2 linked regions of the Homo sapiens genome follow. The protein of the gene in region 1 purifies or fractionates together with the protein of each later gene. This does not show direct contact. Each region holds a gene or a part of one and is shown on either strand. Other genes may lie near its edges. The genes, in order: MYL4 and TTC4.

The links.
Region 2: the proteins of MYL4 (region 1) and TTC4 purify together in Homo sapiens (co-immunoprecipitation; one large-scale study listed by IntAct). This does not show direct contact.

What each region holds. Positions count from the first base shown.
Region 1 is NC_000017.11:47,221,764-47,224,709, reverse strand, and holds the end of MYL4 (myosin light chain 4), read right to left. Parts: coding exon 2,855-2,946; intron 2,331-2,854; coding exon 2,253-2,330; intron 1,697-2,252; coding exon 1,668-1,696; 3' UTR 1,653-1,667; intron 1,202-1,652; 3' UTR 1,031-1,201; downstream 1-1,030. UniProt on the Homo sapiens protein: Regulatory light chain of myosin. Does not bind calcium.
Region 2 is NC_000001.11:54,725,861-54,729,360, reverse strand, and holds part of TTC4 (tetratricopeptide repeat protein 4), read right to left. Parts: intron 1,016-3,500; coding exon 929-1,015; intron 1-928.

The sequences.
Region 1 (2,946 bases):
TGACCTATACAATGGGACATGATTCCGCCTTAAAAAAGGAACACGAGGACATTGTGCTAAGTGAAATAAGCCGGTCACAAAAGACAAACACTGTCTGATTTCACTTATCCAGGGTGGTCAAATTCATAGAAATGGAAAGTAGAATGCTGATTGCCAGGGGCTGGGGGAAGGAGGGAATGGGGAGTTATTTATTGAGTACAGTGTTTCTGCTGGTGGAAATGAAAAGGTTCTGGAGATTCATTACTGATATGGTTTGGCTGTGTCCCCACTCAAATCTCATCTTGAATTCCCATGTGTTGTGGGAGGGACCCAGTAGGAGGTAACTTTCCCATGCTGTTCTCATGATAGTGAATAAGTCTCACAAGATCTGATGGTTTTTAAAAGGGGAATTTCCCTGCACAAGCTCTCTTTGCCTGCCGCCATCCATGTAAGATGTGCCTTTGCTCCTCCTTGCCTTCCGCCATGATTGTGAGGCCTCCCCAGCCATGTGGAACTGTAAATCCATTAAACCTCTTTTTCTTCCCAGTTTCAGGTATGTCTTTATCAGTAGCATGAAAAGAGACTAATACAGTTACACAACAATGTGAATATACCTCACTCTACTGACTTGTATGCTTAAAAATGGTTAAGATGGTAAATTTCATGTTATGTGTATTTTACAACAATTTTTGTTTAAAAGCAGCAAGAGCAAGGACCAAAGGAGGAGTCCCTGCCTCAGCCTGGCCCCTCTCTGCCTGCCATCTGGAGGTGTGATTAGGTAGAGGGTGAGCCCAAAGGGAATAAAACTCCTCCAGGTGACAACTCCTCAAGCTGCTGGCCTTCCAGAGCTTGCTCTCCTGGGTCTGACCCCAATATCTCTAGATCCACAGGCTTTTGTCCTTGTCTCCTAGCTCCCAGATACTACTCATTTCTCTGAGCACACATGAGGCCTCAGGTGACTTTATCTCTCTCTCTCTCACACACACACACACAACGCAAACCAATGCAATTCGTTAATTAGTTTTAAAAAAACAAACAAAACAGAGACTGGTCAGAATCCCAGAGCCCAGCCTGGCCGTGTTAGAGCTGTTTATTAACAGGGAGGGCCTGTAAGGTCCTTGGGGCAGTGGTGTGGTGATAAGTCGAGGACTCCATCTCAGCTCACCCAGCCGGGGCCTCTCTTTAACTCACCCTGGTATGGCTAAAGCCAAGGGCCAGGCACCTGAAAGAAAGTGCTAGGAGGAAAGGGCATTTCACCCTCCTAGACCCAGCCCCTTACCACACCCAGGGGGATCCCAGGGAAAACCTAGGGAAAGAAGTGAGGAAGAACGGGGTCAAGAGCACAGGCCAGGGACCTTCTCTTCCACTTGGGATCGGCTTTCTCACTCCCAGGAGCCTGTACAGGAGGCCCCAGGCCTGAGGGAAGGGCATTGCCTTGAGAGATCCTGGGAGAGGCAAGAGGATGTGACTGATAGGGTCAAGACAGGGTGAACAGGCAAGGGCAGGCAGGAGACAGGAGATGGTGAGTGAGCAGGGCTGTCCTCACTTCCTGATCCCAAGAGGTTTCCTCTTAAGGGGTCAGGGCTGGGACAGATGCCTTCTAGGGCACATGGTGTTATTCTTAAGGCCCTATGTGACCCCGGAAGGGACCAGGAGGGAGAGGCTGCACTCACCTGGAAGACTCTGCTTCACCCTGACATGATGTGCTTGACAAAGGCTAGGAAAAAAGTGAAAATCAGCCACCATGTGGCTCAGCGCCTCTAGGCCCATAAACCACTTGTCCCTTCTCTACACTGCCTGACTTCTAACCCTCCTGCTCCCCTTTCTCCAGACTGTGTAGTTCCTGCTCTTATTTGGGGGTTGGTGGGGAGAAGGTGGGTGGAGGGCAGATACCTAGACTCTGCTCTGTGCCCACTCTCTATGCTGATTCTCAACACAAATGGAATGAACTACATTATCTCTATGAATCCCCACAGCCTTGAGAAAGGTGCCAGCATCACCCCCATCCCTCAGATGAGAAAACTGAGGCTCAGAGAAAATCAGTGACTTAATCAAGCCCACCAGCTAATATATCACAGAGCTATCTCCAAAATCCATGCTCCCGCCATTACACTAGGAGGTTCACTCACAAGATGGAACAGAACAACATCCAATGGGGGGTCTACAAAAACCCACCTCAGACACATACCCTCCAGCTCCTGGGCCCACCCCACCCAAGCTGTTCCCATCCTACCATCCCTGGCTGCCCTGGGATGCAAGGCGCGGCTTAATACCTTCATAATTGATGCAGCCATTGGCATCCTCTTGCCCAGCTAACAGCTGCTCCACTTCAGCCTCAGTCATCTTCTCTCCTGCGGTGGGTTTGGGAGGTGGTGCGCTCTTAATTACAGATGGCAAAGGAGGAACTGGCAATACCCAAGTACCCCCTTAAGTGTGAAGGTCCAAGACTGCCTGGATCTGGGAGGTGGTTCAAACCAAGCCTCTCCCAGAGGTTCTGAAGGGTGCGGCCAAGGGTCTAAAGGTCTTGCCTAGTCTCCGAAGCCTCCCCCTCTGCCTTACAGCTTCCAGAGCCTCAGTGTTTCAGGCAAAGACAAGGACAGAAGCCCTGAGTCCCACCTCTCAGGCCTCAGTAGTAAGCCCTGCTCTGCCAACCTGCTCTCCCCTCCTCTCCCAAACCCTGGTACCTGCTGAGCAAACCCAACTGGGAATGGTTGTTCTTGCAGAGCCCAGGGAGACAGGGCCTGGATCAGGTCATTATCCTCAGGATGCAAAGACCCTTGTATACCACCCCCCACCCAACCAGCATATGTCACCTTGGCACCTCCCACCCCTCCATTCCTCCCACTTGGTCTTCATCTCTGCCCAGCTGGCATACCCAGGGTGGCAAGGACGTGCCGAAGCTCAGCACCCATGACCGTGCCATTGCTCTCCTTGTCAAAGACACGCAGGCCCTCCACGAAGTCCTCA
Region 2 (3,500 bases), on another chromosome or scaffold:
GCAGGTATTCAGTACAGTAGTGTCCCCTTATCCACGGTTTTGCTTTCCACAGATTCAGTTACCAGTGGTCAACCATGGTCTGAAAATATTAAATGAAAAATTCCAGAAATAAACAACCTGTAAGTTTTAAATTATGCACTGAGTAGCAGATGATGAAATCACGGGCTCTGCTCTTTGGCCAGCACATCCACGCTGTAGATGATACCCACCTGTGAGTTAGCACCCATCTCAATGATCAGATTGACTGTCATGGTATCACAGTCCCTGTATTAAGTAACACTCATTTTACTTAATAAGGACCCCAAAGCACAAGAGTACTGATGCTGGCAATTCGGATATGCCAAATAGAAGCTATAAACTACCTCCTTTAAGTAAAAAGGTGAAATTTCTCAACTTAATTAGAAGAAAAATTGTATGCTGAGGTTGCTAAGATCTATGGTAAGAGCAACCTTCTATCTGTGAAATTACAAAGAAGGAAAAAGAAATTCATGCTAGTTTTGCTGTTGCTGATGTACCTCAAACTGCAAAAATTATGGCCACAGTGTGTGATAAGTGCTTTAGCTAAGATAGAAAAGGCATTATATTTGTGGGTGGAAGACACAAACAGAAATGTGTTCTGACTGATGGCAATCAGGTTTGGAACTATTTGAGATTTCAAGCATCCACTGTGGATCCTGGAATACATCTGCTTCAGGTAAGTGGAGACAACTGTATATGTTACTGAGACCAACACATGCACATGAGAGAGCTGACTGAACTGGGGTGGCCTGACTCCAGAGCCTGGTCTCCTCTGTCACACTGCTTTACCAAAGTAGAAAGAAAATGAACAAATTCCTTCAGGTAAAGCATCCCAAGAAAGGTTCCCAACAAGCTTCACAGGATTAGTGGATTTAGCAGGACCATAAAAACCTAAGGTTTAAGAACTCACCTTGATGGCCTGGAGTAAAGCCTCATTCTGATTCCTCTCCTTCTTTTCTTTCAAGTTGGCTTTCCTCACATCCCTCTGTTCAATTCGCTAAAAATGAAATTTAGATGCATCAGCTCTAGAGACCTGGCTTCCTCTTCTATTGCACTAGCCTGCTCCTAAATTATTATCTCTGGCCTCTATCCAACCCAAGCTCCTGTGTTAAGGAATACCAGTGGCCAGATTCAGTTCAATAAACATTTACAAAGTACATGCCTAGATGTCAGACCCAGTGGCAGCAGCAGTTTAAATTTACTTCCTGTATGTACCCAAGGAACTCACAGTCTACTGAGGGGTTGAGGGGTACAGACAAGTAAAGAGCCAGTATAACAGGTGGATTATGTACTACTCTGGTCGTGTGATCCGAGTGCTACGAAACATAGCCTGGGTGACAGAAACCCTGTCTCTATAGATTTTTTTTAAAAAGTATAACCACCCTAGTGGGTATGCAATGGTATCTTACTATGGTTTTGATTTGCATTTCCTAATTATTAATGATGTTGAACATCTTTTCATGTGCTTTTTGGCCATTTGTGTGTCTTTGGAGAAGTGTCTATTCACATCCTTTCCTCATTTAAAAAACTGAGTTACCTGTCTTATTGAGATGATAAGAGTTGTTTATATGTTGTAGATAAAAGTCCCTTATGACTTACCAATATTGTCTTCCATTCTGTGGGCTTTTTCACTTTTTTTTTTTTTTTTTTTTTTGTAGAGATGAGGTCTCACTTTGTTGCCCAGGTTGGTCTCGAATTCCTGGCCTCAAGTGGTCCTCCTGCCCTGGCCTCCCAAAATGCTAGGATTACAGGTGTGAGCCACTGCATCTGGCCCCTTTTCACTTTTTTCTTCACATTTATCTTTTCATTTTTTTGATGGTATCCTTTGAAGCAAAAAGTTTTTACTTTTGATGAAGTGCAATCAATCTACTTTTCCTTTTGTTGCTTGTGCTTTGTGTCATATCCAAGTTCATGAAGATTCATATCTATGTTTTCTTTTAAGAGTTGTATAGTCTTAGCTCTTACATTTGGGTATTTGATCTACTTTGGGTAACTTTTTTATATAGTATGAGGTAAAGTTCTAGCTTCATTCTCCCACATGTGAATATCCAGTTGTCCCACTATCCTTTGTTGAAAAGATTACCTCCCTATTGAATGGTCTTGGCACACTTGTTGAAAATAAATTCCCCATAAATGTGAGGGCTTATTTCTGAGCTCTAAATTTTATTACATTGACCTATATGTCTATTGTTATGCCAGTACCACAATGCCTTGATTACTGTAGCTCTGTCGTATGTTTTGAAATTGGGAAGTGTGAGTCTTCCAATTTTGTTTTTTTTTTTTTTTTGTCTTTCATGATTGTTGGTCATTCAGAGTCCCTTGAATTTCTATGTGAATATTATGATCAGCCTGTCCATTTCTGCAGAGAAGCCAATTGGACTTTTGATACAGATTGCACTGAAATTAGCCAGATGTGGCATCACATGCCTATAGTCCCAGTTGCTTGGGAGACTGAGGCAGGAGGGCTGCTTGAGCCCAGGAGTTTGAGGTTGCAGCGAGCCATGATCATACCACTGCACTCCAGCCTGAATATTAGAGCAAGTTCATGTCTCAAAAAAGAAAATTACACTGAATTGATACACTAATTTTGGGAGTATTGCCATCTAACAATATTAAGATCTAATCTATGAACATGGGATGTCTTCCTATTTACTTAGGTCTTCTTTAATTTCTTTCAACAATGTTTTTTGTATTTTTAGAGTATAAGTTTTAGCTACTTTTGTTAAATGTACTCATAAGTGTTTTTTGATGCTATTTAAAATGGAATTGTTTTCTTAAGTTCATTTTCAGAGTGTTCATTAAAAATCTATAGAATACAAATGATTTTTGTGTACTGGTGATGTTGTTTCCAACAAGCTTGCTGAACTTAGTTCCAAGAGTTTTTTAGTGGATCCCTTAGGATTTTCTATATACACGGTCAAGTTGTCTGCATATAGATGGTTTTACTACTACTTCTCTTCCACTCTTTCATTTTTGAAGAATAGATTTGCTAGATATAGAATTCTTACAGTCTTTTTCTTTTAGCTCTTTGAATATGTCATTTACCTGCCTTTTGGCCTTCATGGCTTCTGATGAGAAAGCTGTTAATTTTCCTTAGGATTTTTTGTACATAAAGAGTCATTTTTCTCTTGCTGCTTTTAAGGTTCTCTTCTTTGTTTTTCAACAGTTTAATTATAATGTGTTTAGGTAGAGATCACTTTAAGTTTATCCCACTTATAGTTTGTTAAACTTTTTGGATGTATACATCAGTGTTTTTCACCAAATTTGGGAAGTTTATGGCCAATATTTCCCCAAGTATTCTTTTGCCCATTCTCTCTCTTCTCTCCTTCTAGGACCCCCACTATGCCTTTGTTGGTATGCTTGATGGCATCATACAAGTCTCTCTTCATCCTTATTCTTTTCTCATTCTGTTCTTCAGACTGGATAATCTCAACTGATACATCTTAAGTGTGATGATTCTCATTACTGCCTGCTCAAATGCG